Homo sapiens: one gene and its partner. The protein of the gene in region 1 interacts with the protein of each later gene in a pairwise test. Each region holds a gene or a part of one and is shown on either strand. Other genes may lie near its edges.

Region 1 (7,470 bases):
ACATAATTAACAGCTTTGTATATACGACAAAGGTGAAAGGGTCTAGCATTTGTTTGAAGCACACCATTACAGTTTGTATAACACCCTTTACACTACAAAGTCTTTTAGTCAAAAGCTACTTAGAGACAAAAATGCACTTTGCATTACTTGAATACAAAAGGAGACAAAACTATCCTTTTCCCCCAAGCCATGTTGGGAAATATTGCTGACCTCGTCCTTTGAAGCCTGCAGGATGGTTATTTCTTCAGTTTAACGTTATTACACTGCTAAGAAAATCTGTATAACATCTGCATATATCAAGGATTTTAAAAAATCTGATATGATTTTAGAGTCCGCATGACCAGTCACGTGACCTGCTCAAGATTGATTAGCACCGTTAAATAAACACACATATATGTATGTATGTATGTGTAAGTATATGTACACACACACATCTATGTATGTAATAAATCTTTGCTAAAAAAACTTCTAACCATAAGCTCACCCAGGACGAGGAGCCTGTTGAACCGATGAGATGATGGATAAGATGGATTTCACGATAATATTGGTCTATTTTGTCTCTCTTCAGTTTGCTTGTTTTATTTACCTTTTTTTCCTTTTTTTTGTTTTTTGTTTTGTTTTTTTTTTGTTTGTTTTTTTTTGCAGCAGACAATATCATTCAGCTTGTGCTCAGTTTCCCTATAAGGGTAAGAAAAGTTTCCATCAGGTAGCCACTTGTTTTTATACTGAAAGACTAATCTGCTCCAAAATGCTCCCAAGTAGAAATGACAGGACTCAAAATCCCTTTCTAAAGCCCAACAGCTAACTTTTTCTGACTAATCTCTAGCTTCATTGAAACTGGCTACCAAGATTGCATTTCAGGCTAACAATTGGCTTCTTAGTTAAGGCATCACAACTGAAAATGGTTATTTCAACAATGGATGCTGTGGATGAAGGAATACCAACAAACTTCTAAGAACTCTCATCAAAAACTAAAGCAATTTGCTTTGCCCCAGTGGCAGGCAGAAGGAATTTAGCCCATTATCTCACAAACTAGGAAAGGATTTTTGAATTCTGAACTAGCAGTCTGTCACTTGTCACAGTAACTATATGTATAAGCTGTATCATTTTGATATTCAGTGACTTTTTTGTAGTTTTAGAATATATATTCTGCAGCATACTTTAATTCATCACTTGATATGTTGGCTTCCTATTTGAAAAAATTATATATATTTTTCCAAAGACACACAGACACACACACATAACCATAAAATGAAGGTCATCTTCCTCCAGAATAATCTGTCATTTTTCCTGGGGATATATGTATGGACCTCCTATCGACATCAGTAAGTTATCTTTGTATGCATCATGGGAAGACTATACTTGCAGATGAGCTGGGCTCTAACTATAGCATATCTGAATGCCAACTCCATTTTCACAGGTGTGACATAACATCTTATCAATGTAGTAAATGTGTTTCTATCAAAAGTATGTAGTGCAGAAAGAAATTCAAGCTATTTTATAGTATCTCTAAAACTCTAATATTGTCCCCATGACAAACATATCTGAAATCATGGCAAATATGAACTTTTGTTTTACTAAATTATCTTTACCATATCTTTAGATGGTAGCTAAAATGGATTCTAGCCAATCATGACTTATTGAAACCTAGAGCTAACAAATTTAAATTAATATAAAATAGACAAATGTCTCTTATTGGTTATTTGCTCAAAATAATTTTTTTTCAGCTTAAAAAAATACTTAAGAGTAAGGAATTTGTCTAATCTTCTGTTTCACATATAGAAACAATAAAGTTTTACAAGAATATTTTTCTAAATTGCCTTTTTTCTAACCCCTCTTAATTCCACTTAATTATATTCTTCTCAAAGGCACTAAATTCTGTATCTGCTCTCTTCCTAATATTTGCTGCTCATAAAATGTTTCCTGTAGCCTTTTTGAAAGGTAGTTTGTACCTTCTCCAAACAGTGTTTTAGTTTGCAAATTGGTTCTATAAAGTGGTGAGGCAGTCTCTTCTATGATAACCAGCACAATAGGGATAAATGATTTCTCTCTCTCTGTGACAAGCCCTATCACGGACCTTTGAATGCTCACTACTAGAACTAAAGTTCATGTATTTTCACCATGGGAAAAACATATACTTAAGGAGTGAAGACCCAACTACTAGGCTGTCATAGCAAAGTGAATTTCAGACAAAAATCAAGAGTAATATACAAATACCTGAATTTGATATGAATTAATCCCAAACTCAGGTATCAAAAAACAACTATCTTACTGAGGAAAACTAAAGACGAACCTAAGTAAAATCCCTAAAAACTGCACACTTTCTTCCATCCACAGTCAAAGGAAGGGAGGCAGGGAAGGAAGAAGGAAAACGGGAAGGAAGAAGGAAAACAGGAAGCAAAACGGGAAGAAAGGCAAGGAGGACAGAAAAACAGAAACCTGACTGAGACAGCAAAGCAAAATTCTACATAATATTATAAGGAAAAAAAAACCCAAAATTATATATGCTGCAAAAAAAAAATCAACGATCTAAAATAATAAAACAGGATCTTAACAAATGCCATTTTTCTACCCGTTACCATGATGATCTTAGTTGACGATGTCGAAGCTTCACCATGGCAACGGAAACTATCATCATAAAATGGTACAGTAAAAGAGATAGCTAGACCAAGAAGGTGTAGGGTCTCCTGGGAAGAGGTCTGCAGAGAGGCCCAGTGACTGGTTGTGCGGCTCAGTGTCAGGAATAATGGTTGTATGGCGGAAGGGGATGCCCAATGCCATTTTGGAAATGATGATGCTGGCGATGAGCAAGGTATTCAGCATAGCTCAGGGTCATCTTTTCACTACGATACCTGAAAGAAAGTCAGGGAAGAGAAAAGTTAACATTGAGAAGTAGGTGACATGCCATTGTCACTGCTAGGAAGGACCTTAAAGATAATTTTATAGATCAGGAAACGGGGTCCCAGAGAGAAGCAGTGACTGCCCAAGGTCACAGAGATAGTAAGTAGCAAAGCTAAGATCAGAACTTGGAAATCAAAAGTCTGAGTCCAGTGCTCTTTGCACTCTACTACTCCTTGTTTAAATTGTTCTTTTAAAAATTTTATTGTCCCCTCAGCCCCAGTTTTCTAACAGGAGTATGCATCTCATTCGATTCAGTTGATTATTTTTCTTCAGAAATCTTCCACCTCTCCCTCTTTTACTGTTCCTTTCTCTGTCCACACATCTACTTAGGTCTTACCATTAAGTAACAACAACAAAAACAACTTTTCTTAATTCTGGTATCCTGAACTCTCACTTTTCCCCATGTCTGGCTTTCTTTTCATTGCCACATTTCTCAAATAGTTGTGTGTATTTTCTGCCTTCAATCCCCATCTCACACTACTACTCAGCTCAGTGCTCCTTGGCTTCTGCTGCCACCCTTCCATGGAAATAGCCATCAGAAGGCTTCCCCTGACTCAGCTTGATCTTTCCATTTGCCCATCATGCCCTTAAGCTCTCTGGTGCTAAGGATTCTATACCTCCACATGCCCCTGGTTCTCCCCTGCCTCTCAGATTGCTCCTTGTCTCTGAATGCTCCTATCCCTGCCTTGTAGAATTTTGTTATGTTTCTGTATTCAGTTATTTTGACTCTATACTGTCCCCCCACAGTGAACCCTATCCTTACAATTTCAATCATATCTAGCCATGAGCTCATACATTTTCATTGACCTACTAGATATTTCTATATAGATATCCTAAGAAGCACCTCAAATCCAAAATCGATGCATAAACTTAACACACTCCTCTTGTGGTCCCTACTTTGATTAAAGGGATTACCTTGGTCCCTTTTATCTAGATTAACGCCTTGACTTTCTTCTTTATTTCTAAATGATGACCCAGTCCTTTCATTTCTTCCACATTATTTTCATATCGATCCCAACCTTTCTTCCCATCTCACTGCCACAGCTCTAGTTAAGGCCCCTGTTGCACCTCTTTTGGACTGCTGCCACAGATTCTTAGATAATACCAACGCTTCCTGGCTCATTTTCCTGTTTCCAATTCCATTCTTATACCTCCCCAAGCCCATCTGATTAAAATCCTTCAATAGCTACCAATTGCCTATAGAACCAGGTCCAAACTAATTACTCTGGAACTCAGGACCCTCAATGGTCTGCCCAACCTACCTTCTGGGCCATATTTTCCTCTAATGATCAGCTTCTCTATTACACTAAAAGACCAGCCCAATCAGACTATTTCATATTCTCAGAACTTGCTTTGTACTTCACCACCCTTGACTCACAAGGTCTTCCTTAAGGGAATCACTTTCCTCCTGTCAAAAAAAAATCCCTTTTTACCTGTCAAATATTCTATCCATTCTTCAAACCCAGCCCCCAGCTGACCTCTTTGAAACTATCTGTTATCCCCCTCCCACCCTCTTAGAATTCCTCTTTCCCTACTTTATGGGAATGGATCTCATATTATCCATCATATTCTGCCTTAGATTAATAATTTTGTCCATGCCCCTTCTATTCTCCTCCACTGTGAACTCAGGGAGAGCAGAGATGGAGGTATTTCTGAATTTGTAACTCCTCAGAGCTGAGAATAGGCCATTTTTAGACTATAAGCATTCAATGTAGTTTTATGGAATTGAAATAAATGGAACCAGCAGCCCATTTTCCTAAAATGTACGGTATTTTCCTTTTTAAATAAGCATCCCTATTTTTTCATGCTGAAATTTATTTAGCATTTGAGTTTAGCTCAATTGTGTTTTTCAGCAAGCTAACAAGTTTTCTTGGTAGACTTCTATCACTGCCAAAATTCTGAGATTAAATTCGAATTTGAGGACTGTTTATCAGAATCCTGGGGTTCTGCTCAGTAATGTCAAAAGCTAGCCAATTGCTAATTCAAGTACTTTCTCCAATAAAGTAGTCTAAAATCTCCAAGGGCTTGCTCGTACAAAAGCCAGAGTAATCACACAGAGCTAAAGATGGGAAAGATAGGCTCATACATCACACAGGCTTTACTACGAAGCAGAGTTCCATTGTATCCACCCTCAGTATGACCCTGCCATTCATTTCCACTCTGTTTCAGAAAAAAGAAGTGTAGTTAGAGAGACCAAAGAAATCAAAGGGTTATAGGCATACACATCAAAATGTACAGGTTAGCCTTGTGCTAGAAAATGTCTTCTGTACCTGGTCAGTTTTATGGTTTTCCTGAATTCATTAGTAATCGGAGCTTTGTATCCTCCTTTCCTCAATAAGGAGTCTATGGTCTGTATATGGTCCCATCCTGTAGAGAGATGACCAGATAAAATATCAGTCAAGCACATGTAACAAACACCTTTCATTAAATACAAAATGACTTTGTAGAGGTCAGCTATCACTGTCACCAAATGCCATCAAATCTTTTGGTCCTAAAAACAATCACACAGAAAAGCTAAGATTTCATCCTTTACAAAAGCAGGGTCATCACCACACTCCTTAAATTCTAGCTATCCACAATGCCAAACAACACTGGCTCCTTTATCTTCGCATTCGAAGTCAAGGGGTCTAAGGGGCTGGCAGAAATTGCTCAGTCATGACTGTAACAAACCATATCTGTTGTACTTTCCTCTAACAGTGACATCTTTAAAAGGGAGTGAAAAGCCTATATGCCATTTTGCCAAGTCAATATTTAGGACTCCCACACCACCTCACAGTAATTGTTGTTCCTTATGGTATCTTCTGTAATTCTGTAATCATTCAAGTTTGTGTGCAGTATTCAAGGGTATTTTGATTAGTTCTGACATGGATGGTATACTAGTATCTGAGGCCCTCTATCTTTTATGTATGCTTTACAAAGTTAATGATACTAGGAGATTAAGACATTTTCTAAAGCAACCCAAATAAATCTTCAAGTAACTGCCTTGAAGACTTTCTGATCTGGGGATTTAATGGCATTAATTTTGCTATTATGTATCTCACATTTATAAGACAAACACGGGAAAACCAAATTACAAATGCTTTCTGATGAGAAGAAAAGCTCCCCAAGATAAAAGATTCATTTCGACCAACATGAAACCAGAATTTAGTAGTTGCTAAGAAAGGATAAAATACTACAGAGTGAAAAGTTACTTTGTGTTACAATGTTGGTTCATACAGGTCTATGCTCTATGTGTGAAACAGGAAAATTCTGATTAGGAAGTGTAGACCAAGCATATAAAACACTAACACTTCATGTTTTCGCAATCCTCTGATCTTAGTGGGAAACCTAGAATCTTAGTATCAGCAGGATGAGTAATGGCAACCACCTAAGAATGAAACATTTGATACTTAAAATGACAAAGAACTATGTGGCTGATTGTCAAACAAAAGGCTTGTTTATGCCACAATGGAATATGGGAAAAATGCATTTCAAATCGGTAGCAAATTGTTGCCTAAAATGAAAACCAACTAATATAAATTCTGCTTTTTAAAAAATATACACTTATGGGTTTATGCCATCAAACTTCAATGCAGGGATTCAACTTCTGTGAGTACTTCACCGACTTGATACAGACATTGCAGTGGCAGTGATGGAAGAGTCACTTCTTATAATTTGACACTTCAATTATTAGACATAACTGCAAGGTCAGATAACGCATTTCAGTTTGTATATTTGTTTAAATTCTTCACCAGATCATATGAAATAAAGTACAACAATGACCTTGCTCCTTTGCAACCTCCGGTAGGTAGGTGGCGGTGCGTTTTGATCCTTTTTCATTGATGAATTCTATTCTAATGCCATGTACACCCACCTGAAAGAAATTGGCAGTTTTATTAGTACAGTCTTCTTCATAGAATCAGAAAGAAAAGGTTATAATTTAACTTTCAAGAGAATGCAGTTCTTCCTTTCCCTTTGTTTTTAGAAGGACGTATAAGTTTTCTCTTTCCAAAGCTTTGACTTTGGATTTGAAGGCCATTATGATGGCCACGGAGAGGGAAAATATTGATTTGCATGTGCCCAACATGCACTAGGCTATGATACTATGTTTGGAAAACTGGAACAACTATTCTGAAGCTGTCTGTAGAATAAGACGGTTGATGGCAAAAATCCTGCCCCACTCCCAAATTGTAGCTCATGCCAATAAAGAACTAGAGACAAAGGTGACTGACTTCAAAGAGATAGCAAACAACCATCCTGTTTTGCAGGTACACTCACCACTTCTGATTAAGTTCCAAAATTTTTGGTGCTGATCCCCTCCCAAACTGTCTACTCCGTTTAAAACATTAAATTATACGTAGGCAAGCAAACACAGTCAGGTAAGATTGAAAATTAATAATGAAAACAACCAGATCCTACATCATCACCCAGTGTAGACAGCATTTCTTTAAAAATGCATTATGACTTAGAGTGGGGTAGTAGCAGACCTTCACTGTCCATCTACACCATTGTCTTCACACAGCTCTACTAAATTTAAGAATAAAGATTTCAAATCACTTCACTGTAGTGCATTATTGCAGTCTCTTTATA
Region 2 (7,470 bases), on another chromosome or scaffold:
TTTTGTTTCTCTATCCAGCTTGTCATTTTGCCTTTTAATTGGGGCATTTAGCCCATTTACATTCAAGGTTACTATTCATATGTGTAGATTTGATCTTGTTATTGTGTCGTTAGCTAGTTATTATGCAGACTTGTTTGTATGCTTGCTTTATAGTGTCACTGGTCTATGTACTTACGTGTGTTTTTGTGGTGGCTGTTAATGATCTTTCCATATTTAGCACTACCTTTAGGAACTCTTATAAGGCAGATCTAGTGGGAACAAATTCTCTTAGTAGTTGCTTGTCTGAAAATGATTATGAAGCTTCTTTTGGCTGGATGGGAAATTCATGGTTGGAATTTCTTTTCCTTAAGAATGCTGAATATAAACTCTGATAATGCACAATAAATTTTCTGGACATTAGAGAAAAATTACTGGACTGTAGATTGTGGTAAAGTTCAAATTACTGGAAATAGCAATGGAGTATATCCACTGCCTTGGCCTTCATTTCTGCGTATTTATTTGGTGTGGTAATCACCACTTGAGATTCTCTAATTTTTGTTCTTCTAAAGAATGTGGACTATTATTTACTATTATTATTATAGTAATATGCCATATTATTTGGCTGTTTTATTACCAAGAAAATGGATCTCTTTCCATAAATGGTCTTTTTTCTTGTTATGTATCTTTTGCTTTTTTTTCCCATTTTTTAATCATGTTTTCATTCATTTTTACTGTGCACACTAATTTCTTTTATATTGCATGTATTGCAGATTTTTATTTTACTGTTTTTTGTCTTTTAATTCTCCTAATTTTAATATATTTGAATTTGTCAGTCTCTATTGTTTGCTCCTTTTCTCCTATTCATATGTCAAAAAAAACCTTGTCTGTGACTTCTGCAAGTGGTCTATTTATACTTTTTACTTTTGAATATATGACAAATTGATTATTGTCCAACTAATAGAGGTCAATGCAATTCATTTTTTTCCCAATTAAATACCGGTTAGCTTTGTTCCATGTTTAAAGTGCTTGATACTTCCTTCACTATCCTACAATGCCTCCTCTGTTATTAGTCAGCTTTCCATATCAATTCCAGCTAATTAAAGACTATATGCCTTTCTCTTGGCCTAGTTCTTTATCTCTCTGCTTATACTACACTGCCCTGAATATTATATTTGAAAATCATTGATGTGTATTAGGCAAACCATCACACTGTTATTCAGAAGACTTTGACGGTTGTTAGGCGTTTGTTATTTCTGTAGGTTTTGAAAAGTAGTTTCTGCTGAACTGCTAGAAAGTCTGTTTCAGGCATCTATGAAATTTTACATAAATATCATTTGTAAGAGGTGACATCTAGATGACATTGAGTTTTTTTCTTTGAACGCATGCCTTTTCACTTATTCTATTCTGCTTTGACATTTTTCAGTAGAAATTGTAAAATAATTATTTTTGGATTATTGAATATTGATTATTAGTGTTAATTACCTCTTGATTAAATTTGGGCTTGAGTGAAGCACTTATAAGCTTCTACACATTTTCTCTTTGTGTAACCACGTGGATTGGGCTCAATTTCCCAATTAAAAAGTTGTGACATCATATATGAAATATTATCTACCAGGGAAGCTCATCAGATACTCAGTGCTCAGAGTGTGTTTTTGTTTGTTTATTGAGGCTGATCCCCCTAGGCACCACTGCTACAATAAAACAAAATAATAGACTTTTGGAAGGAAAACAGGGGTTCAGCAAATACCAGATTGTTTAGATAAACTATTTAGCAACAGTGAGCTACTTTTATCACTTAGGTTGTTGGGATGCCTCTTAAAATGTAAGTTCCCTCATACCAGCAAAGGTTGAACTTTGTAGCAGGTATTTCTAAGGGTAAGTAGTCTTGTGACGGCTCATATTAACTCTCTTATGCACACCAGATAGTAAGACTTTGATATGATATGTACTGCAGGTATATGCTATAAAGAAAAATCATAACAGCAAATATTACTCCCTGGACCCACCAACAAGAAGGGTGTTCCTTCTCTGCTGCTGCCTTGCTGAACAGTTCAACTTTAGCATAAGAACTGCTGGCTGAGCGCGGTGGCTCACGCCTGTTATCCCAGCACTTTGGGAGGCCAAGACAGGCAGATCACGAGGTCAAGAGATCGAGGCCATCCTGGCCAACATGGTGAAATCCTGTCTCTACTAAAAATACAAAAATTAGCTGGGCGTGGTGACATGTGCCTGTAGTCCCAGCTACTTGAGAGGCAGAGGCAGGAGAATCACTTGAGCCTGCGAGGCGAAGATTGCAGTGAGCTGAGACGGTGCCACTGCACTCCAGCCTGGCAACAGAGTGAGACTCCGTCTCAAAAAAAAAAAAAAAAAAAAAAAAAGAACTGCTATGTGGGAGAAAGGAAGTGTAGACAGAGTCATAGTTCTAGTGACCAAATAGTAGAATAAATGTTCGCCACAGAATCAGATGAACATCTTATAAATTGACTACAGATTTCCAGTGCTTTCAGTCTCATCCATCCTCTACAAAAATGTGGAATATTTTAGAACTCGGTTGCCTTTGAGGATGTGGCTGTGAACTTCACCCAGGAGGAGTGGGCTTTGTTGGATCCTTCCCAGAAGAATCTCTATAGAGACGTGATGCAGGAAACCTTCAGGAATCTGGCTTCCATAGGTAAGAATCACAATATTTCTTCACTTAGTCAATCAGAAAGTAAGTGTTTCATGGTTTTCAATGTCATTCCATGATTTGGAATGTACAAAGGGAACACTTTGATGAGTGAATGAGGCATGGACCCAGTGTGCAATGACTCTTGTTTCTTAGTCTATTTTTTAATTGTGATAACAGAATACCTGATCCTGGGTAATTTACAAAAATAGTTTTATATTGGTTTATGATTCTAGTGGCTAGAAAGTCCAAGGTTGCATCTGGTAAGGACCTGATGCTACTTCAGCTCAGGGCATGAAGCAGAAGCAAGTGGGCATGTGCAAAGGGATCACAGCAAGAAAATAAGAGCAATTCTTGGGAGCTAAACTTGCTTTTATAACAACCTGCCCTCTGGCAACTAATTCAGTCTTGCAAGAGTAAGAGAAAACATGCATTCCCAAGCAAGGACATTAATCTATTAATAAGGAATCTGTACCCATAACACAAACAATGTTGCCATATTGATGACCAAATTACAGCATTCATTTTGGTGGGTACAAACCATATCCCCAACATAGCACCTAGAGTCTAGTAATTTTTCTATAATTTCAAATAATTTGTAATATATTTCTGGGTCTACATTTTAGGAAACAAAGGGGAAGACCAGAGCATTGAAGATCAGTACAAAAATTCTTCAAGAAATCTAAGGTAATTTGCCCTCACAAGAGGAAGCAGTCCCCCTTGGGGTCAATTGTAGTATATAATCATATGTTTAAAGCAAACAAGGCCAGGCATGGTGGCTCACACCTGTAATCCCAGCACTTTGGGATGCTGAGGTGGGCGGATCACCTGAGGTCAGGAGTTTGAGACCAGCCTGACCAACACGGCAAAAACCCGTCTCTACTAAAAATACAAAATTAGCCCAGTGTGATGGTGCATGCCTGTAATCCCTGCTGTTTGGGAGGCTGAGGCAGGAGAATTGCTTGAACCTGGGAGGCGGAGGTTGCAATGAGCTGAGGTTGTGCCATTGCACTCCAGCCAGGGAAACAAGAGCAAAACACCATCTCGGGGAAAAAAAAAAACCAAGCAAACAAAATAAATTAAGACAACATCAATTTATTCTCAAAGTTTTTACCAAAAATATATACTTCAATGTAACATGGATGTTAAATGTTTGCAAAATAGTTCACTTGAAAACAGTATTGTTTTAGTCTGCTTGCATTGCTATAAAGGAATACCTAGGCTGAGTAATTTATAAGGAAGAGTTTTATTTGGCTAATGGTTCTGCAGGCTTTATCAGAAGCATAAAGCCAGCATCTGCTTCTGATGAGGACCTCAGAGAGCTTCCAGTCATGGCAGAAGGGGAAGGGGAGCTGACATGTCACATGGGGAGAGAAGGAGCAAGAGAGAGAGAAAGGAAGTGCCAAAGTTTTTGGGGTTTTTTTGTTTTGTTTTGTTTTGTTTGAGATGGAGTCTCTCTCTGGTATCCAGACTGGAGTGCAGTGGTGCAGTCTTGGCTCACTGCAACCTCCGCCTCCCGGGTTCAAGTGATTCTCCGGACTCAGTCTCCCAAGTAGCTGGGATTACAGGAACATGCCACCACACCCAGCTAATTTTTGTATTTTTAGTAGAGACAGCATTTCACCATGTTGGCCAGGCTGGTCTTGAATTCCTGACCTCAAGTGATCTGCCCACCTTGGCCTCCCAAAGTGCTGGGATTACAGGCGTGAGCCACCATGCCCGACCATTTTTTTTTTTTTTTTAACAATCGGATCTTTCAGGAACTAATAGAGCGAGAAGTCACTCATTACCACAACAGTGCCACTTATGTGGAATCTGCTCCCATGACCCAAGCACCTCACACCAGGTCATACCTCCAACATGAGGATCAAATTTCAGCATGAAATTTGAAGGGAGAAAATACCCAAACTGTATTCAATACTAAGAAACTGCATATGAGAATATTACTGTATTGTTAATAGCTATAGGGGAGGGAGCCATGTTGTAGACTAATCAATCCATTTATGTTCAATTTGTTTATGTTAGAAAACCTGCACTTTCTCTGATATTGGTAGCAGTGTAAGTTCAGACTTAGTAATAAAAGAAAATAACTAATAAACCATTAATGATGGGGTTGTCATTTTTTGCAGAAGTCATATGATAGACATACTGTGTAAAATTAAATAAGTCAGTGTAGAAAAACCTCCAGATGCCAAATTTTAATCTGAACAAAAAAATTCCTGCTAGAGTAAAACCACATGAATGCATTGTGTGTGAAAAATTCTTCATACGTCATTCATCCCTTCATAGGCACATCATATCTCATTCTGGAAACAACCCATATGGGTGTGAGGAATGCGGAAAGAAGCCATGTACATGTAAACAATGTCAGAAAACTTCCCTTTCTGTCACAAGGGTTCACAGAGACACAGTAATGCACACTGGAAATGGACATTATGGTTGTACAATATGTGAGAAAGTTTTTAATATTCCCAGTTCATTTCAGATACATCAGAGAAATCACACTGGAGAGAAACCCTATGAATGTATGGAATGTGGGAAAGCCTTAGGTTTTTCCCGTTCTCTTAATAGACATAAAAGGATTCACACTGGAGAAAAACGCTATGAATGTAAGCAATGTGGGAAAGCCTTCAGTCGTTCCAGTCACCTTCGTGACCATGAAAGAACTCATACTGGAGAGAAACCCTATGAATGTAAGCACTGTGGGAAAGCCTTCCGTTACTCCAATTGCCTTCATTACCATGAAAGAACTCACACTGGAGAGAAACCTTATGTGTGCATGGAATGTGGCAAAGCTTTCAGTTGTCTCAGTTCCTTGCAAGGACATATAAAGGCTCATGCTGGTGAAGAACCCTATCCATGTAAGCAATGTGGGAAAGCCTTCAGATACGCCAGTTCCCTTCAGAAACACGAGAAAACTCATATTGCACAGAAACCCTATGTATGTAACAATTGTGGTAAAGGCTTCAGATGTTCCAGTTCCCTTCGTGACCATGAAAGGACTCATACTGGAGAGAAACCCTATGAATGTCAGAAATGTGGCAAAGCCTTTAGTCGTGCTAGTACCCTTTGGAAGCATAAAAAAACTCATACTGGAGAAAAGCCCTATAAATGTAAAAAAATGTAAAGGCTTTAATCACTACAGTTTTTGTCAAAAACATGAACAGTCACATACTTGAGAGAAACTGTGAATGTAAGGTGTAGGAAAGTACTTAATTTTCCCAGATTTCCTCAAATACATGAAACGAATCAAACTGGAGATAAACCCTATGACTATAAGCAATAAGGTAAAGCATTCAATTTTTCCATTTCTTTTTGAAAACTTGAAAGGACTCACTGAAGAAAATCCATATGAATGTTTAAAATGTGGTAAGGCCTGCAGTTGTTCCAGTGGTATTTGATGGTATAACATAACTCATTCTAGAGAAAAACTTTATGAAGGTATCGAATGTGAGAATGCCTTCATTTATCCTATAACTCACTCAGAGACACATGGTAACACATACTCCAGATTGACCTTATAAATAAAAGAATGCCCACCAGATTGAAATCCTAGAAATACAGAAAATTCTGAATTTTAACAATTACTTTAAAGGTCATGTGAAAACTCCCACTGGAAATAAATCCTGTAAATGTAAATATTATGGAAAACCTTATGGAAAATAATTATAGTACAATTCTCAAGAAAATTCACTATGTGAATGAGATGTTTTAGGAGCTATAAATAAATTGAATATATTGGTTGCTCATTTTTGAAGAGAGTCTCTAGAATATAGATTTTCACTTCTTTTGAAAAAAAAAAAATTGAGGTGAGACTTTTTTTTTTTTTTTTGAGATGGAGTCTCACTTTGTCGCCCAGGCTGGTGTGCAGTGGCACAATCTCAGTTCACTGTAAGCTCTGCCTCCCAGGTTCACGCCATTCTCCTGCCTCAGCCTCCTGAGTAGCTGGGACTACAGGTGCCTGCCACCATGCCCAGCTAATTTTTTGTATTTTTAGTAGAGATGGGGTTTCACCGTGTTAGCCAGGATGGTCTCAATCTCCTGACCTCGTGATCCGCCCGCTTCAGCCTCCCAAAGTGCTGGGATTACAGGCGTGAGCCACCACGCCCAGCTGAGGCAAGACTTCTGTAAGTATTCTTCAAGCAGTAGTACAAGAGTTAAATATGTATTCTTCTTTTTTAAGCTGGTAAATAAATTTCCTTTTTCTACCCATTTTAAAGTGTGTTGGTTATATGGGTAAATTGAAATGTATTTCTTTTCCTTTTTTCTTGCATAGCCATTTTAAAAAATATTTTTTAAATATTTAAAGTATAAAATATTTTTAAAATTTTTTAAAAATTTTGTGGGTTACACAGTAGATGTGTGAAATGTATTTGTAGGTTTAACTTCTGTGTAGTTTAATTATTTTGTTATTAATTGGCCATTGATAAATGAGTCTATTTTCTTTGCTAATAGAGTTGCTGTCAATTTGTAAGTATGTAAAGTTTATTATAGAGTATATTCTCACGTGAATTATTATTTTCATCTGTTGTTCTTTACATTGTCATTATTTTTGGCTATTTGCATAGGTAACATTGGTTTAAGGAGAGAGACCTGTGATCGAACAGTGTCTTGTGTCTAATCTGAGAAAGAAAGCATCCAGTCTTATCATCATGTATGATGTTAGCTGAGGGTTTTTAAAATAAATTCCTTAAAGCAGGTTGAGAAAGTTTCCTGCTGTTCATTATTATTGAATATTTCATTGTCAAGTGTTGTTGAAGTTTTTCTCATGGTTTTTGTGCATCTATTGGAATGATCTTGTGGTTTTTCAAATTTATTCTGTTAAC

The links. The genes of interacting proteins can lie anywhere in the genome.
Region 2: the proteins of AMMECR1 (region 1) and ZNF124 interact in binary tests that used the Homo sapiens proteins (3 or more experiments, as listed by UniProt).

What each region holds. Positions count from the first base shown.
Region 1 is NC_000023.11:110,195,783-110,203,252, forward strand, and holds part of AMMECR1 (nuclear protein AMMECR1), read right to left. Parts: intron 6,755-7,470; coding exon 6,664-6,754; intron 5,269-6,663; coding exon 5,172-5,268; intron 2,853-5,171; coding exon 2,738-2,852; 3' UTR 1-2,737.
Region 2 is NC_000001.11:247,154,867-247,162,336, reverse strand, and holds the end of ZNF124 (zinc finger protein 124), read left to right. Parts: intron 1-2,523; coding exon 2,524-2,650; intron 2,651-3,270; coding exon 3,271-3,331; intron 3,332-4,933; coding exon 4,934-5,771; 3' UTR 5,772-7,348; downstream 7,349-7,470. UniProt on the Homo sapiens protein: May be involved in transcriptional regulation.